6 separate regions of the Homo sapiens genome follow, and all the other regions are linked to region 1. Evidence: fine-mapped expression QTL. A gene starts in region 1. Each other region holds a variant in brackets. All regions are shown on one strand. Distances are between the middles of the regions.

Region 1 (5,036 bases):
GACAAGATCAAAGTAGGTTGGCAAAAGATTACTTACTGATATGTTTATGATGAAAAGGGATAACAGAAGGATGACAGGGATGGAGGGACAGAGGGGTAAGGAGAGGACTTTTATTTGCCAGGTAACTCACGCAGGGCTTGGAAAAGCAGAAAGACACAACCCCTTCCCACCATAGTGGTTAAAAGAGAGAGAGATCCAGTTTGGCCAATTGGGAAGAGGAGAAAACGCTGGGTCTGTGGATAGTGCTTATCCAGGGTCCTGGCCAAAGCCATCATGTTTGATGAAATGACAAGTAACACATTTAATTTCCTAGGCATTCATCGGTCCTTGCATACACAAACAGGCACGCAGCTTCACAAGGAGTTAATTAGCCTAACACCAGCAATTAGATTCTCCAAACTGGATCGCAGCAGAGGCGCTGGGTCCTGGGTTTCACACCTCACCCCATCCAAGGTGAAGCTGTAATGAGGGTGTTTTGCACTTTGTCAATTATTTTTCAGCTCCTAGGATCCTTTTTTGGTCTAAAGTTGTTATTTTAATGATCTCTGTTCCGAATGGGGAAATACAAGAAAGAGGATTGAGGAGGAGGCAGAGGGAAGGAAAGCGAGCGCTCCAGCGTGTCCCACTTGTACTTTCCAAGGCCCCCTCCGCCCCCTCCCCCCACACTGCCTCTTCCCTCTGTGCATGACTCACCCTTCAGGAGCTGTTTCAAATGCCTTACTTTTAATGTTTCCTATCACGATAGAAATCCAACAGATTGGCATCAATTAAAGGGAACCCCCAGTTTTGCAATCCTCAAACTCAAAAGCATTTTCTGGTTTCCTTACTGCCTTCATGAAAACCAAGGTGCTCTCATGCAAGATCCCCCACGTGCTGGGGGCTGCCCCTCCTGGGCTCCCTGGGGGTCACGTGCCCTGGAGAGGCCACAGAGGACGACGTCCATGACTAACCATGCCCACCGGCTGGGAAAAGTTCAGCTTCCGCTCCAGGCCCCCCAAACACAAAAAGATTATAATTGGCAGGGCTGCAAAATTGTTTTGTTTACTGTCAGATAGGAAGTACAGAAGAGAACGCTGATGGTATTTTGACACCCCCCCCAAAAAAAAAGTGGGCAGGCATTTTTTTAACCATTGTGAATAGAGTTTCAATAATCACAGTTCCCACCCAAAATAGCTGCCTACAGGAGGTGGAGGAGAATCTGTTGTGGTGGTTAAAGAAAATAAGAATTAAAAAGTGGAAGGGATTTGTGGAGCTGGAGAATCAAGACTGTCATCTGCATCTCCGTGGAAGGGTGCCCTGAGGAAGAGGTGTCACTGGAGAATCCCTCCCAGAACATGCAGTCTTGTCAGGACTGGGAATCGAACTCCCCAGCTGCGGGTTTAACGGAAATCAGAGGGATGAAAATCATCTAAACTCTTCAATGCCCCTAGGACTTGGAAGATCACCCCCAGACTATCAGCTTCAGAGTATCCCGCAGGTAGGCAGCGCAACTGGTGAAGTGCGGTGGGCACACAAGCAGAAGCTGCCTTCGCAGAAGAGGAAGAAAGTTCGAGACCAAGCACATCGCCTGCTTCCCCATGGGTCCCTGCTTCCTAGTGACTCACCTACCTAATATCTCCCTTTAGCAGAAGCCAAAGGCGGAGGAGGCAGGGGGAGAAAGGAGTTTCCCAAGGGTCTCAGAGCAAGAGAGGCCCCTGAGGTCTCGCGATTTAGAATGCTCAAGGGTGCTTCTGGGCTGAACCAGCTGCCTGCCGGGGTGAGCTGTTTTACTTCAAGAGCAGTTAGCAGAAGCAGTGTGGATGGTGACTTCAGCACCACCTCTGCCACAAATGCACCTGTGCACCAAAACAACCTGCGCACCTACACGGAGCCACCCCCTCCACCAGCCTCCACCTCCCAGAGCTGCGGGGATGCTCCGGGCCAGGCACCCCTTCTGGGGACAAGGGTGTAAGCTTCACATGGTACCAAACCGAACTCTCTATCCCGTTTTTTGGCTTTTTCTTTTTTTTTTTTTTTCAGGATACCCCAAGCCTGGAAAGTCTTCCAGAGTTTTCGGGAGCTAATTAATTATGTGATTTCCTCTCCTCTGAGAACTGTTTTGCTGGCGTGTCACCAAGTTGTCACGTAGGTGCCCACCAGGTCAAACAGAATAGACCATCCTCACCCACCCACCCCGGGGAATGTCTCCTTCCACCAAATAAAATGAACTGAGACAGGCAGGAAGGAGGCAGAAGTTTGAGGAAGGACTCCAGTTGAAGGTCACAATAGTTTGGGGAAGGCAGATCAAGGTAATACGAAGGGGACAGACCCTATAGCGGAAAACACAAACAACCAATCACGTTTCTCTCGGAACCAGCCTATCCATGATGGGTGCACCAGGAAACAGCACACCCTGGGATCCAACTTCTTTCACCCAGCACACCCGAATCTCCACCCCAGCCCTGCAGACACCCTAGCCTGAGACCAGACCTATTTAGACAGACCTGAGCGCAGCTAATTAGGAGTAGTAAACAAGCCCATTTCTTGCCAGCGCAGAAGTTTCCCAAATTGTCCGCTTGTTTTCCTCCCAACAAAAGACAGTGATTTCCCACCTTTATCACATTCCCTCCCAGAAACTTTTCTTTCTGCAATCCCTCCACCTAGGCTAAACTGCAAAGCCACTGGCAATGGAGACGCAGGCGCTGCACCCCCGGGACGCAGGCAGAGGTACCTTTTCCGCGAGGCAGAGGGGCCGCCGGTGCCCAGAGGCCAGCTGCCCTGCCGAGCAGTAGAGCGAAGCTGTGGGCTGGAGCACGCTGAGGATTACACGTTCCTGTCTCTGCGACCAGACCTTTCGGCAGCTCGGACCAACTGTGCTAGCGATGCACTTAGCAATTATCTGCTGGCTCCGACGCCCCGCCCTCTGCTCTTGCGATTGGCTCTCCAGTCCCGGGCAGGACTGCATTGGTTTCAGCCGACCTCACTCATTGCTTTGGCTCCTACTATTATCTAAGCCATCAAAGGAAATAATTCCATGTTTCATTGACAACCTGTAAGGCTCTCCTCCAGCCCAATGTGGGGGCAGGACCGGGAGGCCAGTGGAGAGAGGGGAGAGGAGTAGGAAAATGTGGGGGAGCGGGGTGGGGGAAGGAGGTGGAGGGGAGAGGAAAAGAAGGAGAAACTGTGGGGGGGTAGGAGGGTAGGAGGGAGAGAGAGAGAGAGATGGAGCTATCAAGCAATCAGATTCTTGCTCTAGCATTTTAACTTCCACAAAACAGAGCCCATAGCAACAATTTTCTGGCTTTATTTTCCCCCTAACTGGTAAATGTTGCTGAGGGCAGAGAGAATAATAACTATGGGGTGTCTGCCGGCATGAGACAGACTCTAGAAAGCCGAGCAAGGTTGAGGGCTGAAGGGATGGAGTAATGCTTTTCACAGGGCCACCCTGGAGGACATGTGAAGGACATGGCAGATTGCTTGGGGAGCATAGTAGGTGCATACCTGGAGTTTATCTATCAGTACTTTATCTCACAGTCCCCCTCATCCCCCAACCTGAGGAGACAATTTTCCTTTGCACCCTGTCCAAAGAGTCTCAGAAGAGCTATTCTTAAAATCCATAAAACTCTGGAGTTTCTCACTGTTCTCACTGGGAGGTCCAGAAAGCCGAGCATTCTAGAGTGAATGATTCTGCTGGGACCCTCACTTTGGTTTATTCTGACATGGCTTAAATTAATCGCTTAGACTTTCATCAACAACCTACGCACGTGAAGAGAGAACATACCCATCAAAGGGTGGGGACAGCTTAAACACTTTTCCTTGTTCACCAAGAAATCATAAAGTCTCACCCTAGTTAAAATGGCTTTTATCCAAAAGACAGGCAATAACAAATGCTGGCAAGGATGTGAAGAAAAGAGAATGAACCCTCCTACATTGCTGGTGAGAATGTGAATTAATGCAGCCACTATGGAGAACAGTATTGGGGTTTGTCAGAAAACTAAATATAGAGCTACCATCTGATCCAGCAATCCCACTGCTAGGTATATACCCCCAAAAAAGAAATCAGTATCTTGAAGAGATTCCTGCACTGCCATGTTTATTGCAGCTCTGTTCACAATAGACAAGATCTGGAAGCAATGTAAGTGTCCATCAACAGATAAATTAGATGAAGAAAATGTGGTACATATGCGTAGTGGAGTACTATTCAGCCATAAAAAGGAATGAGATCCTGTCATTTACAACACCATGGATGGAACTGGAGGACATTCTGTTAAATGAAATAAAACAGGCATGGAAAGACAAACTTCACATGTTTTCATTCATTTGTGAGAGCTAAAAATTAAAACAATTGAACTCATGGACAGAGAGAATAGAATGATGGTTACCAGAGGCTAGGAAGGGGCGGGGGTGGAATGGTTACTAGGTACAAAAATAGAGTTAGATAGAATGAATAGGATCTGGTATTTGACAGCACAACAGGGTTATTACAGTCAGCAAAACATATTGTACATTTTAAAATAACTGAAAGAGTACAATTGGATTGTTTGTAACAAAAGGAAATGCTAAATGCTTGAGGTGCCAGATACCCCATTTACCCTAATGTGATTATTACACATTGCATGCCTGTATCAAAATATCTCGTGTACCCCATAAATATATACACCCACTATGTTCCCATAAAATTAAAAATTTTTAAAAATTAAGAAGAAATCATAAAGCACAAATTTTGACCTTCCCCTCTCCTTAATGTATTTGTCACCATATGGAAAAGACATCACTTGGCAGCTAAATTTTCTTAACTAGGTAAAATATTTATTATTAATGTTTCTAAAATGAAAGAGCTTTTATAAATCAATAAGTACAAGACCTATAACCCAATTCAAAAATGGCAAAGGACAAAATGGGCTGAATTTTTTAAGAGAGAATTATAAAAGCGTCTTTTAAAGAAAGCTTTTAAAATATCAAATTTCAGATGATCCAGAAACTAACCCTTCAGCCTTCTTATCCTAGGATCTCCATGTCTTTGGTGAGGCTCTGGTCCCAGTCCTGCCCTGGCCTCC
Region 2 (5,036 bases), 110 kb before region 1:
TTTGAAATGCCATCCCAAATTTACAGCACTAAATGCTTATAATAGAAAAGAAGAAAGATCTGAAATCAATGACCTCAGCTTGCACCTTATAAAACTAGAAAAAGAACAGTACGGCAGTCTTCTTTTATAGAATAGGTTCCCAGACCCGCAGTGGGTGCCTGAAACTACAGATAGTGCCAATCCCCATCGCTGTCAATCAGAACATGTTCTGTCCATGTCATCCATCAATAAATTTAATGCCTTTCCATCTTAACTAAGCACTTATCACACACTGTGGTCATAACTTTTGTAGTTTGAAATGAGACAGCAAAAGTAACACAAATTTCTTTTTCTTCACAATTTCATGGATGGAAGATTTATTCTTGTGTAAATCTTAGCAACCTCAGCATACAATTTTTGTCCTTATTAAGTTGAGAACTTTCATGTTTTCACTTAAAGGAAACACTTTACAGCTTCTCTTTGGCATATCTGAGTTGCCAGCAACACTACTTTTGTGCTTTGGAGCCATTATTAAGTCAAGTAAGGGTGACTTGGACACAAGCATGGTGAGGCCTCATTAGTGGATCTGACAACCCGTGTGGTCTACAAGTGTGACTCACAGGCAGAGAGCACCCACAGTGCAGAGACACTGGGCAAAGGGAGGATTCACAGCCAGGGCGGGATGAACCTGGATGGTGTGAGGTTTCATGTGCTGCTCAGGAAAGAATGCAACTTAAACCTTATGAATTGTTCATTTCTAGAATTTTCCTTGTAATGTTTTCAGACCATGGTTGGCTGAGGGTAATTGAAACTGTGGAAAGCAAAACTATGGATAAGGAGGACTACTATAAATTAATCCTCATGAAAGCAGAAGAAAGGAAAAAATATAAGTATTATAGTGGAAATCAAGAAAACAAAAATAGAAATACAAAAGAGAAAATCAATGAAAGCAAAAGCTGGTTGTCTGAGATCAGTAAAACTGATAAATCTCTACTCAGACCAATGGGGAAACAAATAGAGAAAAGACACTAATCATGAATATCAGGAATGAGAGATAAAAAAACATGACTCCTTCTACATATATTAAAATAATAATCAGGTAATATTATAAATGACTCTGCCAATTAATTCTACAACTTAGATGAAATGAGCAAATTACCTGAAAAAACAAACTACCAAAGCTTAAGAATAAATAGGCTGGGCACGGTGGCTCACGCCTGTAATCCCAGCATTTTGGGAGGCCGGGGCAGGCGGATCACGAGGTCAGGAGATCGAGATCATCCTGGCTAACATGGCGAAACCCTGTCTCTACTAAAAAATACCAAAAATTAGCCGGGCGTGGTGGCGGGTGCCTGTAGTCCCAGCTACTCGGGAGGCTGAGGCAGAAGAATGGCGTGAACCCAGTAGGCAGAGCTTGCAGTGAGCTGAGATTGCACCACTGCACAATCTCAGCTGGGTGACAGAAATTAAATTTGTGGTTAAAATCTTTTCACAAAGGAAACATCACATTTGGATGGTTTCACTAAGAAATTCTACCAAACATTAACAAAAAAAACACCAATTGTACACCAACTCTTCCCAAAATTGAAAAAGAGGGAATACTTTCCAACTCATTCTGATGCCAGTATTATTCTGATATCAAAAACAAGGACATTACAAGGAAAAAAAAAAACACAAACTGATATCATTCATGAACATAGATATAAGAATTCTTAACAAATTTTTAGCAAATCAAATATAAGGACATATACAATGAATAATACATCATGACCAAAGGATATTTGTCCCAGGAATCCAAGGTAGATTTAACATTTAAAAATCAATTAATAGAATTTATCATACCTACAGAAAGAGAGAGAGGAAGGGAGGGAGGGAGGGAGGAAGGGAGGGAGGGAGGAAGGAAAAGAGGAAGGGAGGGAGGGAGGGAAGGAAGGAAGGAGAAGGGAAGGGAAGGGAAGGGAGGGAAGGGAGTGAGGGAGGGAGGAGAGAGGGAAGGCGAAGAAGGGA[G/A]AAGAAAATTCACATCAACATTGCAACTGTGGAATAGATGCCAAAAAAAAAGGGTGTGAGAAACTCAAACATAAATTGATTTAAAAAGGAAAACTTTCAGCAAACTAGGAATAGCAGGAAACTTCCTCACCCCTGTAAAAGGCACCTATGAAAACTTACGGCTAGCGTTGTACTTAATGGTGAAAGACTGAATGTTTTTTCCAAGATGAATTAGGCAAACGTGTCTACTGTCACCCTTTCTATATGCAATATTGTACTGGGAAGTTCTAGCCAGCATGATAAGGCAAGAAAAAGAAATTCAGTGCATCAAAATTGCAAAATGAAAGACTGAATATGCAAATGGACAATGGTCAGACCATATATAAAAACAAAAATTAGATAACACAACAGGGTGACTAGAGTCAATAATAATTTATTATACATTTTAAAATAACTAGGAGAGTATAATTGGACTGTTTGTAACACAAAGAAAAGACAAATTCATGAGGGGATGAAGACCCCATTTACCCTGATGTAATTACTATGCATTGTATACCTGTATCAAAATATCTCATGTACCCCATAAATATACATACCTACTGTGTACCCACAAAAATTAAAAATTAAAAACAAATAGTACTCTGACCCACAAACTGTAGCAATCAGCCTGGGAAGCCAACCTACTATCTGCAGTAATGAGTCCAGGAAGGCAAACTACTGTGTAGCAGACAGCCCATAAAGCCAAACAATAACTCCTGTAGCAATCAGCACAGAACAGCCAGAATATAATGAGTAATTGACAGCTTTTCTCATATTGCTCCCACTTCCAACTTAGAACCAACTGGAAAAAAAGCCAAATATCCACCCCAAACCAGTCATGTACACTGCCCCACTTCTAGTTAACCCACCTAAAGCTTCCCCATGCCAATACCTCCAGTCAAGGCATACATGATTCCCTCTCTTTTCCACCATGAAGCTTCCCCACTCCCCTGCCTGCCTTTGAGTCTCTGTTAAACACAAATGATTGTGGCTGACTCTCTTGCTATAGCAAGCTCTGAATAAATACGCTTTGTTTGTTTTCATTTGGATGGTCTTCATTTATTTCCACAAAATAAAGAAAAAAAACTGTTTTTATTCTTAAACAACATGATTGTAGCAGTAGAAAATACAGAATCTATTTTAAAAGCTTCTAGATCTAATTGGTAGGCTAACAATGGTTTTAAAAGCTTCTAGATCTAATCAATAGGTTAGCAATGTTTCAGGATACAAGATTGATATCTAAAACCAATTGCATTGCTACATACTAGCAACACAAAATTAGAAATTGATATTTTTAAAAAGATGGATCTCATTCTGTCACCCAGAATGAATGCAGTGGTGTGATCATAGAGAATTTAAATTTTAAAGAATAACATTTATAATTTAATTGTTTAAATACCATTTATAATACTATCAGAAATATGAAATATTTGGGGATAAATCTGACAAAATATGTGCAAGACCTATACACTAAAAAATACAAAACATTGTTGAGAAAAATTGAAAACAAAAAAATTGAGAGATATATTAATACTATGGATTAAAGACTTGATATTGTTAAGATGTCAATTATCTGACAAGTTACTTACAGATTCCATGCAATTCCAATGAAAACCTCTGTAGCCATTTTTTGTAGAATTTGACAAACAGATTCTACAATGCATTTGAACATGCAAAGCACTTAGAATTGCCAAAACAACTGTGAAAGCAAAGAACAGAGATAGAGAACTTACACTACCTGCTTCAAGATTATCAAAAAGCTATGGTAATCAAGACAGTGTGGTATTACTATCAATATACACCAACAGATTAATGAAAACAGAACACAGTGGCCAGAAAGAGATTCACATTTATATGGTCAATTGATTTTGAAAAAGAAGCAAAGGTAATTCAATGGAGAAAGGCGGCTCTTTCCAATAAAAGATGCTGAAGCAACTGGATATCCATAAGCAAAAGAATTAACTTTGATCTATATCAGCACCATATTAAAAATTAACTCAAGATGGATTATAAATCTAACTGTGTAACCTAAAATAATAAAACTTCTAGAAAAAATATCCAGAACCCACTCAGGGAACAGATGTTCAGAAGGGACTGGAGGAGCATGGGATGGCATCCAGAGAGTGCAGGGGAGCACAGATGTGACCAGGTTCCAAAATCATGATGGAATAAGAGGTAACATGGAAGCGCTCCTAGGAGCTCCAAAGTACTTAAGCCTGGGAAATCCCGCTTCCAAAGCAGAGGGTTATAGTTTGAAAACAGATAACCACAGAAACTACACTGAGAGAGTAATGTACAATTTACAAAGTGATTTCATGTATACTATCAATAGCCCATCTCCTCTGATCCTCCAAAAACCCTAAGGCTCAGAGAGGCTGAGCAACCAGCCAAGGTCACACAGGTCCTTCGCCCTGGCTCATGGCTGAGTTGGGCCATCTTCTGCTCATGTAGTTCCCCACACCCACATCCAGCATTCTGCAATATAAGCTTGTTGAGGGCAGGGAATAGTCCGAATTGCTCACTGCTAGATCTCCAGAACTCAGAACATAGATTTTTTTAAATAATAGCTATTGACCAACTACGGACTCTAAGACCAGCACACTTTTCACTACACTGAGCAGCATATTCTGCCATGTTTTGTCTTAGCCTGAGAAATCGAAGCTCTCCCTTATAGCCCACAGACAAGGAAGCTATAGGAGGCCAGCCCTGTGCCCTGGTGTCCACTGGCTTGTCAATAAATTGGATAGCTATGAGCACCAGCTAACTTCATCAGGAGGGCCGCTGCACAGCAGAGGGGCCATAACTCCATGTCCGGGTGGGTTGCTTCAAAATCCACCAGTGTTGCTATCCACCCACAGCATGCAATGAGTTCACCTCTTTCTGGGATTAAAAAGACTAAAACTAGCTATGGGGTTGAAACTAGTCTGACTGGACTTTGAGGCAGAAAATACTTTTACATTAATTTTGTATTTCCTTACCTACAAAAAAATCCTATGTTTCACTTTCAATATTCTACATTTCTGTATGTGAGC
Region 3 (5,036 bases), 180 kb before region 1:
AAAAAAGTGTGTGAAATGTTAAAGGGGTCCAAGAAGACCTCGCTATGGAAGGGACTTTTGAATAAAGGCCAGAAAGAAGTGAGGAACTGGGGAACAGCATTCGAAGTAGAAGGAACAGTGAGTAGAGAGGCCTTGAGCATGAGGTGAGCAGCATGTGCACAGATTAGCAAAGGAAACCAGCCAAACGAGAGGAGAGGGAGTAAGAGGCGATGAGCTCAGGCAGTGATGGGGAAATGATAACTACCAAACAGAGCCTTATAGCTGATTATAAAGACATAGCTGGTACCCAGAGTGAGAGGCAAAGCCATAAAGAGGCAACAACAGCCATGATCTACATAGTACCCAGAAAGATTTGCACATGTGTGAAAGAGCAAGAGTAGAAACAAAACCTGAAAGGCAAGCCTCTAAATATTAAAAAGGTGATATATATATACATCTGATTATGCAAAATTATTTTTTTCTTTGTCCTTTATGAATTGTCTAAACATTCCACAGTAGGTGATACTTTTTTACTTTTAAAAAAGAAATCAAATTTTGAAAAATAATTATTTAGAGTAAGTAAACCCCTCATCCCACAATTTTATAGGGTTAACAGATGAAAGGGGAGAGAGAGTGTGTGCTTTACGAGATAAGATCTCCTTTCGCTCTTTGGAAGGAAGCCCAGACATGCATGGGGCAGATCTACAGAGATGTCTCTAGTTGGCACTGCCACCAGCGTGGCCCACCTCACTAATCTGGGTCCCTTCGTTCAGCAGGTTCCCCTGTGGGTCCATTTACATGCCATGTGGACTTCCAAACAACCTGCAACCCTGACAACAGCCAGGCCCTCCAAGTCATGGAGAAAAACTGCTAAGGCATCAACACGAATGTTTTCTGCCCAAGCCTATAAGCGCCTGTGGTTTTATAACTTTATCACCCCAAGTGCTACCTCAGGTCCTCAGTTCTGTAGAGAAGCCAATCAGAGACAGACACTTGTCCTCCAATTTCCACTGCTATCTTTATCACTCAGCACAGAGGAAAAGAAAAGGATCAGACCTAAAGAAAAGATATAACTTTAATGGAGGGCTTTATAGGGGAAAAGATTTCAAATCTCAACTGTATTCATGATACGCAGAAAAGAAAGTCTGGATTCTCAAAATGTGGTACCCGGATTTGCAGCATCAGTGTCACCTGAGAGCTTGCTGGACATGCAAATGCCCAGGGCCCCTCGCCAGACCTGCTGCATCAGAAATATGGGGAGGGGATCAAGCCCTCGGAGAGAGTCAGCCCCATGCTAAAGAATGCCACAAATCCACTACAGGAGGTGTTTCCTTGGACCCTTCCTCCCTTTACTTAAGAGAGAGTCAGTTTGGGCCAGGCACAGTGGCTCATGCCTGTAATCCCAGCAATTTGGGAGGCCGAGGCAGGCAGATCACCTGAGGTCAGGAGTATGAGATCAGCCTGGCCAAGATGGCGAAACCCCATCTCTACTAAAAATACAAAAATTAGCTGGGTGTGGTGGTGCATGCCTGTAATTCCAGCTACTTGGGAGGCTGAGGCAGGAGAATCGCTTGAACCTGGGAGGTGGAGGTTGTGGTGAACTGAGATCGTGCCACTGCACACCAGCCTGGGCGACAGAACGAGACTGTCTCAAAAATAAATAAAAATAAATAAGAGAGAGTCAGTTTGATTAGGGTCCAAATGTCTCGCCCTCTAGCAGGAGATCTTCATTACTACTCTGTGCTCCACGGAGGTTTCTAAAAGCAAGTCTCCTTGAGATATCAACAAAGACCTAGGCCTTTTTACTTTGTTAGCTGGTCAGACTGAGCTGGAGCTTTGTCATTAGCAGTTTCTCCAGGAAGCCCATGGGTATCACGTGGACCTGCCTTTTCTCCTCCTGTTCCCTGGACGCTAGCATACCTATCATTGTGAAACTGTGTCACTGGAAAGTTAATCTCTCTGGATATAAAACTCTGTCCTCCTATGAAAAGTTCTGAGCACTTGATTTTAACAAGGAGAAGAGCTGAAACATGTTGTATCTCGTCTATAATCCTGTAATTTTATCTTTGATTGCTCAGTAATACCATCTTTTCCCAGTAGGGTGAAGTCATCCTTTTGCTTATCAAACCTTGCACACAATGAAGGTCCTTAAGTCCCAATTTGAAGGACCCAGATGGAAAGTATTCTGAGATTTCCACTCACCATTTAATAAGTAGTTGGTCTCTGATACAGATTGTACAAAAAGGTCAAAACAAATCACATATTTATTAGCTTTTCTGTGTTAGTTCCATCAAGAAATATCTTCTAATATAAAATACTCAAAATAAAGCATTCAGGCAGGGTACAGTGGCTCACGCCTGTAATCCCAGCACTTTGGGAGGTCCAGGCAGGAGGATTGCTTGAGGCCAGGAGTTTGAGACCAGCCTTGGCAACACAGT[G/A]ATACTCCATCTCTACAAAATAAGAATAAAAAATAACTAGCCAGGTGTGGTGGTGCATGCCTCTAGTCCCAGCTACTGGGTAGGCTGAGGCAAGAGGATCCCTTGAGCCCAGGAGTTCAAGGCTGCTGTGAGCTGTAATTATACCACTGCACTCCAGCCTGGGTGACAGAGCAAGACTCTGTCTCTAAAAAGCAAACAAAAAAATTAATTTAAAATCATAAATAAATAAAAACAAAATAAAGCATTCAGTAAAAATGTATATTTCTTGAAAAAATACATAAACTTAAAACTTCAAAGAATCTGTCAATAGGAACCTACTTTACTAAAGTTATGGTGACTCTGGATGGTGTTTCTTTTTATTTTTAATAAATTTTTAATTATGAATAATTTTAAATTTGCAGAAAGTACAGTAAGTTCCCACATACTGTTGTTCTCTGTTTCCCCTCCTGTTAACATCTTACATAACTGTGATACATTCATCAAAACTGAGAAATTAACTTTGATAGCTTACTATTAACAAAACTCCAGACTTTATACAGATTTCACTAGTTTTTCCACTCATGTTCTTTTTCTGTTTCAGGATCCAATCCAGGATACCACACTGCATTTAGCATTTTGTTTTTCAGTTCTCTTTTACTTCTTCCTGCCAACTTCTGGATTAGAACCTCGTATAGATAGCCACTTATAAATAGCTGTTAATTAACCAACACAGCATCCTGCACTTCATAACTGGTAGCAATTCTGCCCAAAAATAAAGCAATCCACAGGGCAGTGACCAGTCTGCGTCAGCAGTGTCACCAGCCTGCCATGGAGGTTAGGCTAGCTCTACTCAGACCCCAGCATCCTCTTAGGTAGGCCTGGGTTAGAGGAGGAAATCTGCTTTGGGCCCAAATGAACTGGACAATCTAGCCAAGCTTACTGATCCCATCCTTGAAGATAGAAGTAAGCCAGTTTGTTCTGTGGGAAACTCCTTATAACAATACTTGCAGGATGACTGGAGTGTCAAATGATTTAGGAAACTGCAATTATGATTTTTTTTTAAATTTCCAGTTTATTCAAAGGCAACAGTAGAAAGAAAGTCTGGGCAAAGGTGGAGGAAAAACATAAATCACCCATGACCCTTGGGTAGGATTCTCTGGAGAACAGCTACTGCACAATTACCTGCTCACCCAGCCTCCTTCTTCTTTCCCTCATCCAGTTCGTCTCCATGACAGTGACAGAGACACACACAGAGAGAAAAGCAAGCAAAAAAATTTGTAGCACAAAGTAAAATGTGCAAACAGCCCATCTAAACCATAGTTCTCATGCCTGCTCTATAGATAAGAGTTCTGGGGGCACAAGATAATGACTTCCAAAGTGGAAGCAATTATCTCTCATACTCTTGTGGATTCAAGTTCCAATTTCTGATGACATTCTTCCTCTAAATTTCTGACATATATACACTTTCCAAGGTTCCCCTGTGGCACTGACCTGGAATCCCAGGAATCCTTAGAAATGAGAGGAAACTAAATGATCAAGTCCAATTCTTGGAGGCAACTTCAAAATACTGCTCACTCAGATGAGAACCGGATGGGGCCTAGAAATCAGCCTGAGGGCTCCCTTTAAATGCATTACCCCAAACTGATGTTTTCTTCTCTCTCTTTTGGTAATTAAGAAGTTGACATATGAGTTGTTAAGACTTTGAGGCCAGGTGTGATGACTCATACCTGTAACCCCAGCACTTTGGGAGGCTGAGACGGCGAATTATGAGGTCAGGAGTTCAAGACCAGCCTGGCCAACATAGTAAAACCCTGTCTCTACTAAAAATACACAAAAAAATTACCCAGGCGTGGTGGCAGGTGCCTGTAGTCCCAGCTACTTGGGGGCTGAGGCAAGATAATTGCTTGAACCTTGGGGTCGGAGGTTGCAGTGAGCTGAGATCGTGCCATCCAACCTGGGTGTCACGCAAGATTCTGTCTCAAAACATAAATAAATAAATGAATAAATAAATAAATAAAATACTTTAATGAAGGTAAATTAGAGAAAGCAGGGAGAAATATTCAGCAACAGTGACTGACAGGCAGCGAGTTCGTGGAGAAGGCACTCAAGGCCCTTTTTTTGTTTTTTGTTTTTTGTTTTTTTTGAGACGGAGTCACCCAGGCTGGAGTGCAGTGGTGCAATCTCAACTCACTGCAACCTCCGCCTCCTGGGTTCAAGTGATTCTCGTGCCTCAGGCTACAGAGTAGCAGGGACTACAGGTGTCCACCACCACACCCTGCTAATTTTTGTATTTTTTAGTAGAGATGAGGTTTTGCCATGTTGGACAGGCTGGTCTTGAACTCCTGATCTCAGGTGATCTGCCCCCCCTCAGCCTCCCAAAGTGCTGGGATTACAGGCATGAGCCACCATGCCCAGCCCATTCAAAGCCTTTTAATGTGCTTGCTCTCCCTGGAGGCAAAGGGCACAGACCCCACACTCCTCAGCAGCCCATGCTTCTCCAAGGTGAGTCCTGTCTGGATGTTAAGATCTGTAGACAATTCCACCATGCCCTCTGCAGTAGGACCCAGTGACCATCTACTTCTCTGCCTCCCATGAACCTAGGTCAACAATGGACTTGCCTCTCCCTAATTGCAAAGTAAT
Region 4 (5,036 bases), 150 kb before region 1:
GGGTGAACAGCTTTGAAAAAATATGGCTAGAATGAATGCTCCCAGGAGCAAGGAGTATCAGGTTTGACATGATTATGGTTCACCTCAGTGAATGCCCAGCACTGAGCCCAGAAAGATAGAGACTAGAATGAGATAACACAGGCCTGTGAAGGGCCTCTTTATGACAAGTCCCCTCCGTGGGACCTTGGATTCTCCAACCCTACCTGTTAAGATGTTTCTTCCTCCTGGGAAGCAGAAGAGACTGCTTCACAGATCATGACTACTGTCTTGGATTCTTAATCCAGATGAATCCAGGGAGTCCGTGTCCCTAGCCAGCAGAAGTCAAAGGCCAGTCTGCTCCTGCTAGGGGTGAAGATGGGGTAGGGAGATGGAGCCGAGGCCAGGTGGCAAGACACATCTGCAGGTGTCCAGCTGGCTTAGTCATCACGCTGGCTTCCTTTTATATTTCTAGAAAATATTAGGAACACCCTGCTCTTCAGCATCTTAAATAAGGGCATCTTAAATAAATATTAAGAAATGTGATAATATTTACCCAAGGGCTCACCATTTCTGTCCTAAGCAAAAGAATACATCAAGCTGAAGCCTTCACTCCACTTCCAGCACCCTCCTCACTGCAGCCTCCTGGAGCTGCTCAGCCGTAACCCACAGAGTTCCTCCCCATTGAATGATTAAGCAACACCCACCCCAGGTATTAGGTTCTTTTGGGTAGTTTGAGACTTGCATCTTCACAAAGAGGCATAAAATGATAGACCCCCACCTTCGGCTAGGAATGAAGAAAGAGTAAAATGTTTTAGCTGGTCTCTTCTCTTGCTATCCTGCAATTTTCAACTAATGTCAAACAAAAATAACAAGTAAGGCAGGCAAGCTCTAGTTCGGCAGCCCTTAGAAGGACAATAGGTGCTTTGAGAAATTTAGGCTTTAGGAGAAAATGCACCAGCAAAGATGTATAGAGAGGATGGGCCCAAGTTCAGATCCTTACATAAGAAAGGCAATTCTGTTAGCACAATTTCTAGGCTGAATAGAAGAAAACAGACTTGGAACAAGGGTCAGGAGGCAGAGGCATGAAGCCAAGGGGGAGTTGATAAAAGCGTGATCTCACTCTGAAACCACAGGAAGGGACAAAGATGAAGCCAGCAGTGGCAGGCAGGGCCGACTCACAGCATCCGGATGTGGTGAGCTAGCAGGTCAAATATAATTCAATCGTTTCTAGCCTGGGTGAAGGGAAGAAGGGAAGAAGTTGGTGTTATTAATCAAATTCTAAAAGGAAATTTAAAAGAGGAAGCAGGTTTGGAGAGAAAGGAAAGATAAGTCCTCTGAGGTGTGATTACTCTAGACTGAAAGCACCCCAAAGTCTACAATTGTGTGACCCTAGGGTTCTATTTCGAAGGTATTTAAAAGCAAACTACAAGCAAGTAATTCAAGTAAAAGAGGCAGGTTCAGAACATCCTCCCCACACTCAGAAAACTGCATTTTCCAGAACAGAGACAGTTTTATTGTTGTTTCAGGTGTAGTTCTCTGAGCAAAACAATAGACTTAGGCTTATCAATCCTTTACACCTTAGTATAAATGAGTTTACAAGGTCCTTTCCCAAGCCAAGGATCTGGAAATAGGGTGAAGATCCTGTTAGAAATTCAAGCACGATGGCTCTGAGAGAGAATAAGTGCCGAAAGAGGACGGCAGATGGCACATTCCTTAACTTAGGACAATGTTCAGAGCCAGATCTGCCAGGCAATATTCCCCCATTTCCAGCCAGAGGATGGATTTCTCCTACGCCTATCTCTAAGATCATCAAAATCACTGTGAAGGTAAGAAAATAGGGACATTTGGTGTTTTATATTGCTCATCACTCAATTCCTCTCTTGAGGAAACAAAAATGGTCCACTCAATATATATGTTATTGAACATACAGTAATAAAATGCACATGATTTTTATTTCATCCTCTAG[A/C]ACTAATTTGTTAGTACTCAGCTAAGCATCCCTTAGCTTCCCTGACACAACACACTCCTAGTTTTCCTCCTACCTGCCTGTTTCTTCCAGATCTCCTTGGTGGTCTCACCATCTTCGCAGCCAGTAGGTTTCCCGGCTCACTTTTCTTCTCTCCTCAAGCTTTCTTGGTAGACGTTCTCAACTGCAGAGCTCACACACAAATTTAACTCTTCCACCCAAATCTCTCCTCTGAGCTCCGCAGAGGAACTGCCACTCCTGGTTAACATCTCTTTCTTTCTTCCCACCTTCCTTCCCTCCTTCCCTCCTTCCCTCCCTCCCTCCCTCCCTCCCTCCCTCCCTCCCTCCCTCCCTTCCTTCCTTTCTTTCTTTCTTTTCTTTCTTTCTCCCTTCCTTTCCTTTCCTTTCCTTTCCTTTCCTTTCCTTTCCTTTCCTTTCCTTCCCTTTCTTTCCTTTCTTTCTCTTTTTTTTTTGACAGTCTCGCTCTCTTGCCGAGGCTGGAGTGCAATGGCGCAATCTCAACTCACTGCAACCTCTGCCTCCTGGGTTCAAGCAATTCTCCTGCCTCAGCTTCCCAAGTAGTTAGGACTATAAGCGCATATCACCACACCCAGTTAATTTTTGTATTTTTAGTAGAGACAGGTTTCACCATGCTGGCCAGGCTGGTCTCAAACTCCTGACCTCTGCCCACCTTGGCCTCCCAAAGTGCTGGGATTACAGGCATGAGCCACCATGCCCGGCCCAGTTTTACTACTAATAGTGCCCTTTCACTTTTAGAAGTGTCATGTTTGGATGATAAATGATATTGTCACTCCTTCCCTAAAAACCGCACATGGTCTGGCTCCTACCATATTGGTCATGCTAGCCTTTTCTATGACGACATCCTGCTTTGTTCTGCACTAGCCTCACTTGCCTTCTTTCCGTTTCTCCCCAAACTTTCATAATGCTGTCCCTCTTCCTGGAATGCTCTTCCTTAACCTTCTTACCCAGTAAAAGCCTGTGCACCCTTCAGATGCCACTCAGAATCACTGCTGCAGAAAAATTCCCTCATTCCGAGGCTGGTGATCTCTCCCCACGTGCTCTCCCAGGGACCGTGACCCTTCATCCATAGCACTTATGAGAGCTGCCACTTTCAATGGAGGGCAGGGACCCTTCCCGGCTGTGCTCACTACTTATGCTATGCCAGAATACGCACGAAACTTGGATTAATGGTTTATAAAAATGGATAATGATTTCATGATAAAATAAAAGAATTACTTGAAATTATCAACAATCCACTGATCCGTTTGGTTTATTAAATCATGGTATTGGTTTCCAAGGAGCTTTTAAATCACATGCTATTAAAATTAGAAAGGAACAATTGATCATTTATTGCAGAGGAGGAAATAATGCAGGGAAGTTACATGACTCGCCCATGATCTCCCAGCCTTTCTGGAAGTCCAAGTGAAATGCACACAGGAGTATAGATTTCTATTTTATTTCTAGGTGGCAAGACTCCATTGAAAAGCCATATAAACCCTTCCAGGCTCAGATATTCCTTGGTTATGATTCGGTTTTACTTTTCCCTCGATAGCACTCTATTTCTTCCCTTTCTCCCTCCCTTCTTTCTCTTTCCCCTTTTTTTTGCATCATCAGCCATGATAGCAGAAAACTCATGCCCAGGAGTATGTCATAAAGCATACAGAAAAAAAAACAACACATAAAAATGCAAAGTATGTATGGTAAGAGAGGTGGGAGGAGGGACACACTGAAGATCCCTAATTCTTGGTGTTCAAGACATTGCAGGCCACAATTCCATCTTGAATTTTTTCATCCCCCATTACAGTAAGGGATATAATAGATAATGAGAGACCAAACAAACTAATTTGTTAATTCTAGGATGTGACATCATGACCATTCATTTCTGGGGTTGCTAATGCCAACCAGTGACCTTCTAGGATTACATACAGATGAAATGTGAAGAGGAAATTTAATAAGAAAAGGTCAATCATCACTCAATGTACCAATGAAACAAGATTTTTTTCTTTTACAATAAAATATCAAAAATTTTAAACGACCAACATTGTGTCTTATGATACATACTCAGTGCTTATAGACAAAGCTATAATGACTATCTAAAATTATATGGAGGATAATATTTGCTGAGCTCTGGAGTATTTAAAGTCATAAACACTCTTTTAAAGGTCAGCTGTAAAACCGAGATAATAACTTTGAAGGAAAATGCCTTTTTCCATCAGGAATTCACAATAAAAATAATCTTTTCCACATGATTTTTCTTTTAACTATGCTTGGCACAAAGACAAAACTAATAGATGAATTATACGTGATTACAAAACTATTTTGCTATACGGAGTCACAGATCAAAAGGAATGGTTCCTGTTGCAGGCAGGTAATGGCCTTGTACCATGTTCAGTCACATATGCTGCTGTAGAGCATTTCAATGGGGCTTTGAGAATGACATGCTCAAATAGCTGCATTTTTAATATCTATTAAAGTCACTGTGCCATGACTGAATAACACCACCCATAAGCAGAAAGGAGGGGAATACAACCAGCTGCTCCATGCACACAGTTCAGGGCTGTGTGTGCTGTCATCTAGAGCTGTTCAAAATATCTTAACTCTCTTCTGGCTAGACTTAAATATTGGGGCTGGATCACAGCCAAGTAATGACAAGTTGTGTTCCTCCAAGCAAAGCCCCAATGTGCAAATGCCAACACCATATTTTTTTACTCTTTGTATTCGTTTAGCTTCTTTAAAACAAGAATGGTATTGAACACAGTAATATTTTCTCTCTGTTTTTCTAATTCATTGACAATTACTTAGGGCTTTTATTTTTTTTTAAGAAATGCATCTCTAAGCAGAACTTGATCTTGGAATACAGACCCACTAGCTCATTCTAATCAGTCTTTTTTTGTTGATTTCTCTTACTCCCTATCAGATATGGTTTGGTTGTGTCCCCATCTAAATCTCAACTTGAACTGTGGCTCCCACAATTCCCATGCATTGTGGGAGGGACCCAGTGGGAGATAATAATTATGGAGGCTGTTTCCCCAGTGCTGTTCTTGTGGAAGCGCATAAGTCTCATGAGATCTGA
Region 5 (5,036 bases), 130 kb before region 1:
AGTCCTTACCTAAGTGCTGATTTTTTTCTTTTATTTGACCCTTTGGAAACATCTGTAAGTTGGCATACACTTGCTTCTGCAAATCTTTCACCTGCCCTCAGGAACCGAGCCCCTCCTACTGGCCAACCCAGTCTCCATCCCTCCCCAAACATACCCCAGGCTCTAGCCCTGCTTCGCAGCACCCTCACCAGAACCAGATTGGGGGTAGGAGAGCTAAGCAGCATCTTGGGTCACCTAACTAAAAACAGTACAAAATCTGCAATGAAAGAAGTCAGAAAAAACAAAATTCCTGTTAAGCCAAGTTTCCACTCACTAACTCTGAATGGTTCTTGCTTCTGGCAAAGCTGACTTTTTTCATGGTCGAGGCAACATTCTGACCGCAAAGATCTCTCTCTCTCTCTCTCTGTCACAGTCTCTCTCTCTCTCTCTCTCTCTCTCTCTGTCATGCTCTCTCTCTCTCTGTCGCGGTCTCTCTCTCTTTCTCTCTCTCTCTCTCTCGTGCTTTTGCACCATGCACCTGCAAGTTGCACAGAGCTACAGCAGATTTTATCACCAACCTGGGGCTTGGCCAACGTAGAATTGACAGCTATGGTCAGCTACAATCCTGAACCCGATACTGCATGTGGTTTCCTAAAAATGAAGGATTTGTGTTACCTACATTATAAACCTTTAATTGTCCTCCCAAGAAATTGCTAGTTCGGAAATTAACAAAAGGAAGCTGAAGAAGAGAAAAGAAGGAAGAAAGAAAGGTGAGGGTGGGCTGGGGCAGTGGGGCAGGGGGGGATAATTTGCTATAACAAAAGGCAATAAAGGGAAATTTTAAACATATGTCATATAGTACTTCATAATTATATCCACAAACATAATCTCTATCTTGGCCAAATGTGTGTAACTATAGCTATCCACAAGAGATCCAATTCCAAACAAGTTTTAATGTTATAACTGGGTTATGGACTTGATTCCTTATTTTGAATATAAAACAACATATGTATTGCTAATTTTTCAAAGGGGCTTTCTAAATAAATATTGAATGAAAGTCAGTTTGAAGGGCCCCTGCAAGTCTCTGCCTAACCAGGTCTCCCACAGGCCTTCCTCATTGTTCCCTCTAAGGCTTTGCACAGCAGGCAGCTCCACCAAGAACAGGCGCCCCGTCATGGTACAAATCTTCCAGAGCCTTCTAAAGCTTTTGCCTTGGGGAAGCCATTGTTAAGCACTCCAGCTTCCATCAAAAAATCACTTCTCTGATCATCAACTTCATTAGAGGCAGGGCCACACAAATTAGCCCTTGATTGTTTTTAAATTGCTTTCTGTATGACTTTTCTCTCCAACTACCTGATGAACTCCATATTTCATTTTTTTCTGTGTCCTTTACAGCATGCGGCTCTGTACTCTGTACATAGTAGAAGCTCAGTAGAAATTGGCTGATTGATTAATTATGAAAGGGCCCATAGATCAGGAGATACTCCACAAGAAAGAAGAAAAAATTCCACGACAGAATACTTGACACACACTTTACAATTTATCATGCACCTTCACAAACATGACTTTATCTTGAGTCCCTTAACAACTCTGAGAGACAGTCAGGACAGCAATTATATTGCTTGATTATAACCATGGTAATTGAGTTTTAGAAAGTCTAAAGCAAAGTTGTGAAACTCATGCGTAGCAGAACTGGGGATAGAATCTCCACTTCTAACTCTCAGTGCTGGGTACTATTTAAGCTGGAAGCCAAACACACAGCACTTGTTGGTAAACGCATCTGTCTTTGAGAACTGACCACGAAGTCAACAGCAGACCACTTGAGAAGACAAGGGGACATTTGACAAAGTAAATGTCAACGTTACGCACAATGTCCCACCATCCCAACCTCGACTCCTGCCTCTGCCATAGTACTAAGTGAATAATGTCCCCCTCCAAATTCATATCAACCTAGGACATGCAATGTTATTTGGAAATGGGGTCTTGCACATGTACGTAGTTAAGAAGATGTCATGTTGGATTATATTGGGCCATAAATCCAGTTATTGGTGTCCTTATAAGAAGGAGAGAGAACACACAGAGATACACACAGAGAAGAAGGCCAGGTGTGGTGGTTCATGCCTGTAATACCAACACTTTGAGAAGCTGAGGTGGGAGGATCACTCAAAGCCAGGAGTTCAAGACCAACCAGGGAAACAGCAAGATCCCATCTCTACAAATTTTTTTTTTTAAATTAGCCAGGTATGGTGGTGCATGCCTGCAATCCCACCTACTTGGGAGGCTAAGTCTGGAGGATCCCTTGAGCCTGGGAGTTCGAGGCTGCAATGAGCTATAATCATGCCACTGCATTCCAGCCTGGGAAACAGAGCAAGACCCCATCTCTAAAAATAAAAAAAACAAAAATGAAAAGATAGAAGAGGCAGAGGTTTTTGTGGTACAGTTTCAAATCCAGCAACCACCAGCATCTATGAGATAGGCAAGGAAGAGGTTCTCAGTCAGACTTTCCAGAGGAAGGCCCTGCCCATGCCTCAATTT[C/T]ACACTTATAGCCACCAGAACTGCCAGAGAATAAATGCTCTTTGTTGAAGCCACCCAGTTTGTGGCAATTTGTTACAGCAGCCTTAGGTAGTCAACAGTGCTAGAACTTCATACTCAAGAAATGCCTCTGAGTTTGTTTCCCTGAAGACATTACCAATGCTGACTGCACACTCAAAAGGGCCTTTTCCCACTCTTTTTTATTTAGCTCACCCAAATCTATCCTTTAAGAAGTGGTTCAGTGTCACTTTCCCCAGGAAAACTTATCTAGCCCCATCGTATCAGGAGAGGCCAGGGACCCTTCACCATGCCCAGGCATATGTCTATGGTAGCACTTATCATGCTGCATTGAGATACAGGGTCTACACATCTGACTTCCCCACTAGATCCTGATCTGTGTTGGGGAAGGTGTCCATGTCCCCCAGCGCTTTGCAGATGCTCGTTATCGTCTTACGATGGGATGTTGTGGAGCTAGTTTACAGTATCAGAGTAGATCTCCTTTTGTTTTCTACTTTTCCAGCCATGTCTCTGTCAAGTACTAGCTGGGTGATCACAGTCAATTACTTAATCTCTCTGTTTGCTTCTCTGCTAAGTGGGGACAGTGACAACTCCTGCCTTCTCCAGGGCTTGTGAAGATGAAAGATCACTCATATATATAAAGCATTTAGAACACGTGTGGAAAGTGCATGATAAAAGCCAGCCACTATTTTTACCCTGCCCAGAACAACAATGCTCCCTGGCTCCAGACCCCATAACAGTTACAAGGCCAAAAAATAAGACACCACTTCAAGATATGTGGGAAAAGACTAGGAATAGCATTTAGGGAAGCAGGATTTTAATCTCAGGTCTGACCACTTTGGTCAAGTCATGGTACTTCTTTATTTTCACCTTTGTAATAAGAAGGGTTTAGATTAGATTGATTCTTCCCCATCTAGACTCTAGGATGTTTAGGGACTTGTAAAAGTGACACTCAGCTTCTCAAGCTATGCAGAATATTTCAGATCTGAAGGAAAGCATGTATATTAAGAGTAGTAACACTGATGACACTAACCAAATGCCAAGCTTCTCTATGTTTAGAGGGAATTATCTTAACCCCACATAAAAATACTGTTTACTTAAAACTGACTTGCGATTTTGGTCAGCAGTTACTTACATTTTGCAAAAATCAAAGTATCACACACACAAAAAAAAAACCCAGGTAAAACTAAATCACCTTTTTTACTTAAAAATGCTGTTTCCCATACAGATCATTTTTTCCCAAAGCATCTGACCCACGGGTCTGAAGATAATAAAAGGGTGAAAAACGGAGACTCTCAATGGACTGCGTGAACACTGAAGTCCTTTCTGTCTCTAACGCTGGAGGGATTACTGAAAATTTCTCTAAGGCAATTGACCATAACAATTTATTTCTCACTTAATTTTACTCTGTGGCCCCAAGGGAAAAATGTCTTCCAGGGGGAAAAAAAATGTAAGATCCGAGTAAGGATTCTAAAGATAAAAGCATGTGAAGAGAAAATTTAAACAGCTGACAATGTCAAAACAGAAGATAGAAATGAATTTGGGTGTTTAAAACAACAACAGCAAAAGCCAAATGGCCTGAAGTAGAAATGGCAACAATAGACCTTAGAAGTATAATAGGCCCTTCACTGCGTTTGTAAGTAAATTTCGAGTTCCTATGAATGGGGTGGGAGCAGGGTTCATACATGGTCAGGGTGTGGGAAATCAGGAACACATTTTCTCTGTTTACAAAGCCATACGCTGGGGGTATTCAGGGCAGATGTGAATGCTCTTCTCAATCAGTTAACACTGGGATGCAAACCTCTCACAGCCCCTGGGAGCACAGAATCTGAGTAGGAAGTGAGGTGAGTAGAATAAAGTGTTATTATATCCTTCTGAGAATACAGCGTGCTAGTGGAGAGAGTATCAGTAATAATAATACATGCAGAAAGTGCTTTGAAAACAAAATGCTAAATAAATATGACTTATGTCAGTTGGGCCTTATGAAAAATCTATACCTTCGATATTATTATTATTATTATTTTTAGAGACAGTGTCTCACTCTGTTGCCCAGACTGGAGTGCAGTGGCACAATCATAGCTCACTGCAGCCTCTGATTCCTAAACTCAAGCAATCCTCCAGCCTCAGCCTCCTGAGGAGCGGGGTCTATAGGTATGTACCACCATGCCTGGCTAATTAAAAAAAAAAAATTGTAGACACAGGGTCTCACTATCTTGTCCAAGCTGGTTTTGAACTCCTGGCCTTAAGTGTTCCTCTTGCCAGCATCCCAAAGTTCCGGGTTTACAGGTGTGAGCCACTGCACCCACTCACCCAGAACAGCAGTCATCCCTGGCCCCGGACCCAGCAATGGCTTCAATGCCCAAAAATAAGACACCATTTCTTATTCTCCAGACAACGTCTTTATATATTCAGTCTCTCAATTCTTAGGTATAAGCCTGTACAAAAGAAAGTTGATTCATATAATTACCAATATACACTCTTAAAGCCCCTGAGAAGTATTGGGGGTG
Region 6 (5,036 bases), 160 kb before region 1:
TATTGTTTAATGGGTATAGAGTTTCATTTTTATCAGATGGAGAGAGTTCTAGAGACAGACAGTGATGATGTTTGCACAACACTGTGAATGTATTTAATACCAATGAACTGTATGCTTAAAATGCCTAAGACGGTAAATTTTATGTATACATGTTTTACCCCAATTTTTAAAAATTGGGAAAAAAAGAAAAAAAGACAAAGGGACCTTAGAAGAGTGCCTACAACGGGAAGGTCAGACCCTGCAGCAGGTACTGGCAGGCAGTCAGCTCCAGCAAGAAAGAGATGTCAGCCTAGGCACACACTTGGCACCAGACAGAGCTGGAGCCAGCACAATGAGGTGCCAGGGCCTGCAGCCTTAGGAACCCAAGTAGAAAAGAGGCATCTGGCATCTGTACAGTTGGGCAGCAGTGAGCAGGGCCCAAGCCATTGGGCTGGATTCATATCCAGGACTCTTCTCCCTGGTAGGAACAGGCACCTGCTCCAGAGTGGCAGCTAAATTACCAAGATGCCACAGGGGCAGAGGAGGAAGGACAGTCTATAGCTATCCAAAATATCCACAGGTCCATGAGGGCAGGATAAGCCTTGGAGCAAGCATGACTGATACTGGTGTCCAACGTTATGGGGTAGGCCTTCATCATCTCTTCCCAAAAAGGCCCTGAGGCCTGGATGCCCCAGTGGCCTCAACTGTGGGAAGAAGAAAAAGGCAGACACTGGGAACCAGGGACATCTGGCAGACCTGGGCTGAGCAAGACCTCCTTTTTTTTTTTTTTTTTTTTTTTTTTTTGAGTTGGGGGTTTAGCACTGTTGCTCAGGCTGGAATGCAGTGGCATGATCATAGCTTACTGCATCTTCGAACTCCTGGGCTCAAGCGACCCTCTCACCTCACCCTGCCAAGTAGCTGGGTTGACAGGCACAGGCCACCACACCAAGCTAATTTTTAATTTTCATTATCTTAGAGGTCTTGCTATGTTGCCCAGGCTGGTCTTGAAATCCTGGCCTCAAGCAATCCTGCCTCCTGAGTAGCTGGGCTTACAAGCAAAACCCAACATGTTTGGCTGACCTCCATACTTTTAACTTAAAAATCTGAGCACAGTTAAAGGGAGCTGACATCCTTTTTTAAGAGCCCTGAATTCATCTTTGCAAGCAGACAATTATCGCAGGGGGTTCAGTGACTAGAACAGACCCATTCTTGGTCTTTCATTAAGTTTGTCATTGTCTTTGCAAAAATCAAAAATCTGGTATATTTCATTTCCAAGCTTAAAATGCCTTGAAACTCTATTATGTTCTACATTTTAAAAAGTCAGAGAGAGGGTAACTGCATCTAATTTGCAATGCATGCCTAGTCACAATGTTAACTCACAGGACTTGTGTTAATATTATTATATACTTCAAAGTGAATCTTGTGTATTCTACAGAATTAACTAGAGTTGTTTGGGGGCCTGTTAACAAGTTGCTGAAATGCAGAAGCTTTTGGATTTGTTGAGCAGTCATAGCCTATTACAAGTTGTGTCAAGACAATTTCAGGGACAGGCCAACGAGAATCGCTGTTCTTGGTGGAGCCTTAGGCACTGCTTTCAGATTTCATTAAGAATGACATATGCAGGGATTTCAGATAACTATTATAGGTGGGATCCAGTTTAAGAAATACTGGTTGTGAAAGGCAGCCTTAGAACAGGTCTAAATTAGCAGGAATGAAGAGTTTTCTATTACTCAACAACTCTCGTTCATTCATTCAACAAATGTTTCCTGAGCCTTGCCATGAATCCCCATGGTATTCCAGGAATACTCTGAGTAAGACACATCCTTGCCCTGAAGGTGCTGACACCTTGGAGGTAGATATTAATAATTAGCTACATCCAGAAGTGATCTGTAAAAACAAGATACTATGTACACTAAAATGGTGGAGACACTATTTCCAGCAAGAAATTCAAGGAGAGTTCCACAAGGAAGGTAGTTCCTAGGTAAGACTCAAAGATAGCAGGATTTTAACCATTAGTGGTTGCAAGTAGGAAAGATGAACAATGCTTAACAGAATGAGGATAGCAAGCTACAAGGAATGCGCTGGACATGGCAGTTATTTCTCAATAGGCACACGTTTGGCATTTTAGATGGGACTAGTCTTACTTACGAAATATTGCTCTCCAAATTTCAGGACATTTGGCATGGCTGGCCTCTCCTGCTAAGTACCTGTAACACCCCACTGCAACAATAAAAAACACCCTGGCACATTATTAAATGGCACTTAAGAGGAGTTACAAGCCCCAGTTTTAAGATGCAGTGTGTGAAATATGTAATGTATCATCGGCACCTGCGTGTGAACCACAATTGACTTCGTGAGACTTTACAAAATAAAAGAAAACAAAGTCTGGAA[G/T]ATTTGGGTGTAAATTTAGACGATTTCCTTGTGAAGAGACTGCCCTGTGCCCTAGGTGAAAGATTCTGGAGATGGAAAAGTACAACCGAGCGGAGAGAGAGAGAGTAGAAGTAGCCTGTCGGCATGCTCTAACATTCTGGAAGACTCTGGTAATCACCCGTCTCTCATTAGAAAACATTCCCCAGTCTGTTCTCCCAACTCTCTGTAGAAACCATCTCCAGGTTTAAAATGAATGTCAAAGGGAAAGTAGGAGTCACCTTACATTTAACAGCAACTATTCCAGAACACCACCATCCCATAATATGACTTAAGGCTGTTTTCAAGGTTACTGGAGGCCAATCTTGAAAATCTCCTAAAGAAAAAATTATATGATTGGAATTGTCCAAAATTTAAAAAAATCTCTAAAGACATTAATACAGAAATTAAATATTTTGCAATAATGCCCTCTTGCTTGAAATAAAATAAAATTAGAATCTACTGGGACCTAAAGATTACAGAGCCTGTTGAGTTTGCTGTTTGCTATTTCAGACTCTTTGTTGTGGGAACGCCTATGTCTAGATGACTAAAATGGCTGGTGTGAGACACAGCTGACTCAGCTTTTTACTGACTGAGCATGTGACAGTTTGAATTGCCCACCAAATCTGATGCTCTAGGCAGAAACTCTGCCTTATCATTGCTCAGAACTCCAAATTTAATATATAAAATCAAAACAGTCAACTTGTATAAATGAAGCAATAAGGAGGAATCTTTGGTGGTAATACATCTGCAAAGTAAGACATGAGATACCCATTACTTAAGCACAGTGCTTAGCATATATTTGGAGTTTAATAAGTATTTGTTGAATAAAGGAATAAAAGACATGACTTTAGTCACATAGGAAATTTAAATTATATTATACTCAATATTTTCTCTTTATAGGACAAGACAATGTTCTATACGTTTTGTAAGGATTTCCATCCTTATAAAAAGAGCACTATTCAGTTTTTGTGCTCATAGAGTCATAGTCAGTTATCTGAAAAACATACTTACTTAGAATAGTCCATTTTCAGACAGTGCCAGATTTTTTTAAAAGCATTACTAAAATAAAGGATATGAGTTAGAAACTGGATCTAAAAAATATTTGAGAGCTGGTTTCAGGAATTTAACCCATCATAAAGCTTGAGGAAACAGGTTTTGTGTTATAGCCACTTTTTCAACTCTCCTCTCAGAAGGGACATTCCTATAGCTGGCAATCACAATTTGCTAAGCATGGTGTTCAGTGTATTCAATAGTCTCTGTAAAGCAGTGAGTTCAGTGTCTCACTATTAAGACACTGTAAACAAAGACATATGGACGTTTAACCGCAGGACCCATCACAACACTCAGAGTCCCAGAACAGCATGTCTGGATGGGCGCTCGGGAAGCATCTTCCTTTTCCAGAGAAAGAAAGAGGCACGGGGAGTGGGAGTGACTTGTCCCAGGGCACACAGTAAATTGGTAGCTGAGATGAAGCTGGAAATTAGATCTTTCAAATTCAGTCTTCTTAGAAGCTAAGAATCCAAGATGGATTATTTAGGAATGCAGATAAGACAAGTAAATGTCTCAGTAGATGCAGTAATGCCACAGTGCAGAGCGGGAGAAACACTGTATAAAGTCAACCAATGCTATTCAGACCTACAGCCCATCAGTGGGGATCAGGAAGACTCTGACCAACCTCACCTTATCTCCTAGGAATCTTTCAACCACAATAGCCTCAGGAACATGGAGAAGGACTGAGTCCAGGCAAACACATCAAGCTGGTAAAAATGATGACAACTCCTCTAACCTTTCCTGACTGCTGCAAACAGCTCACCAGGAAAATGTACAGGAGGTGGAGGAGGGACCCTGTTGGCCACATTATACCAATATCAAGGAACAAATGTCAGTCAGGCAATGGCAGATATTACCCAGAACTCTTGCTTTCCTGGAATGCTATTTTTACATCTTTCAGCAGTAAGGTCTAGCTCACAGTCTCAAGTGGCATCTCATGATTCTCATTCATTCAGTGAATATTTACAGAACACCCACTATAAGAAAAGTACCATATAAGCACTTGGAGGTACAAAATGAAGAGGCATCATGGCTGCCCAGAAGGCACACAGAGCCCAACTAAAGAAAGCAGAAAAACCAGTCACCAAAATTCTTGGAAGCATTGCACAAATACATAACAAAAGGAGTTAAGGGAGGCAGTCCACAAGAATAAGGAGTGATTGGAGGTAATAGTATGAGCAGAGGAAGGCTCGTGAAGTAATGGGTTTTGCAATTGAGAACAGTCCTCTGGCAGTCTGTGAGGATGGGCAGGAGTGAAGCAAAGCAGGATGTGAAAACCAGTGAGGGACGGGTGGAAGAAAGAGATGAGGGGCTAAGCAGCTAACAACAGAGACGAGGTACTCATGGACTGAAAATAGGGGTAAAAGTGAGATAGACTCCAGCCTAGCTGACTGGGCAGGCTTCATTGACCAAGATTGGAAATACAGGGAATAGAGGTAGCTCTGACTGGACATAAGCAGTGCCTAAGCAACTTCCAGATGGAAAGATCTATAAAGCATTTGGGCACAGAGGTCCAGAAGTAAGCAGGAGGTCTGAAGGTCAACAGGCTGGGTGGTGATTGAAGCCACTGCAGCAAATAAAACAACACAGAGAGCACA

Direction of the effects. Positions count from the first base shown, and alleles are read on the strand shown. Sizes are in standard deviations (SD) of each study's normalised expression. Not every link is listed here.
For the expression in whole blood of the gene that starts at base 2,854 in region 1, allele A in region 3 goes with a higher level than allele G (large effect, 1.4 SD a copy in Lepik 2017).
In carriers of allele A in region 4, the expression in left ventricle of the gene that starts at base 2,854 in region 1 tends to be higher than with C alone (moderate effect, 0.50 SD a copy in GTEx).

The links. PIP is the estimated chance that this variant, and not a neighbour inherited with it, causes the effect.
Region 2: its variant is the best candidate, but not a certain one, in a credible set for the expression of ZMAT4 in whole blood (TOPMed, PIP 0.66).
Region 3: its variant is the best candidate, but not a certain one, in a credible set for the expression of ZMAT4 in whole blood (Lepik 2017, PIP 0.55).
Region 4: its variant is the best candidate, but not a certain one, in a credible set for the expression of ZMAT4 in left ventricle (GTEx, PIP 0.60).
Region 5: its variant is the best candidate, but not a certain one, in a credible set for the expression of ZMAT4 in whole blood (TOPMed, PIP 0.71).
Region 6: its variant is the best candidate, but not a certain one, in a credible set for the expression of ZMAT4 in whole blood (TOPMed, PIP 0.74).

What each region holds. Positions count from the first base shown.
Region 1 is chr8:40,894,973-40,900,008 of GRCh38, forward strand. ZMAT4 (zinc finger matrin-type 4) reads right to left here and starts at 2,854. Exons shown (of 7, transcript NM_024645.3): 1 at 2,711-2,854.
Region 2 is chr8:40,787,129-40,792,164 of GRCh38, forward strand. The region is part of intron 2 of ZMAT4 (zinc finger matrin-type 4); the gene reads right to left. Among named protein-coding and RNA genes, the nearest start is that of ZMAT4, 110 kb to the right of the region's middle. The variant G/A (reference allele first, on the strand shown) is at 1,987.
Region 3 is chr8:40,715,059-40,720,094 of GRCh38, forward strand. All of the region lies in intron 3 of ZMAT4 (zinc finger matrin-type 4), which reads right to left. Among named protein-coding and RNA genes, the nearest start is that of ZMAT4, 180 kb to the right of the region's middle. The variant G/A (reference allele first, on the strand shown) is at 2,418.
Region 4 is chr8:40,743,971-40,749,006 of GRCh38, forward strand. The region is part of intron 3 of ZMAT4 (zinc finger matrin-type 4); the gene reads right to left. Among named protein-coding and RNA genes, the nearest start is that of ZMAT4, 150 kb to the right of the region's middle. The variant A/C (reference allele first, on the strand shown) is at 1,946.
Region 5 is chr8:40,760,295-40,765,330 of GRCh38, forward strand. The region is part of intron 3 of ZMAT4 (zinc finger matrin-type 4); the gene reads right to left. Among named protein-coding and RNA genes, the nearest start is that of ZMAT4, 140 kb to the right of the region's middle. The variant C/T (reference allele first, on the strand shown) is at 2,515.
Region 6 is chr8:40,732,080-40,737,115 of GRCh38, forward strand. The region is part of intron 3 of ZMAT4 (zinc finger matrin-type 4); the gene reads right to left. Among named protein-coding and RNA genes, the nearest start is that of ZMAT4, 160 kb to the right of the region's middle. RefSeq lists an enhancer at 2,365-3,564. The variant G/T (reference allele first, on the strand shown) is at 2,371.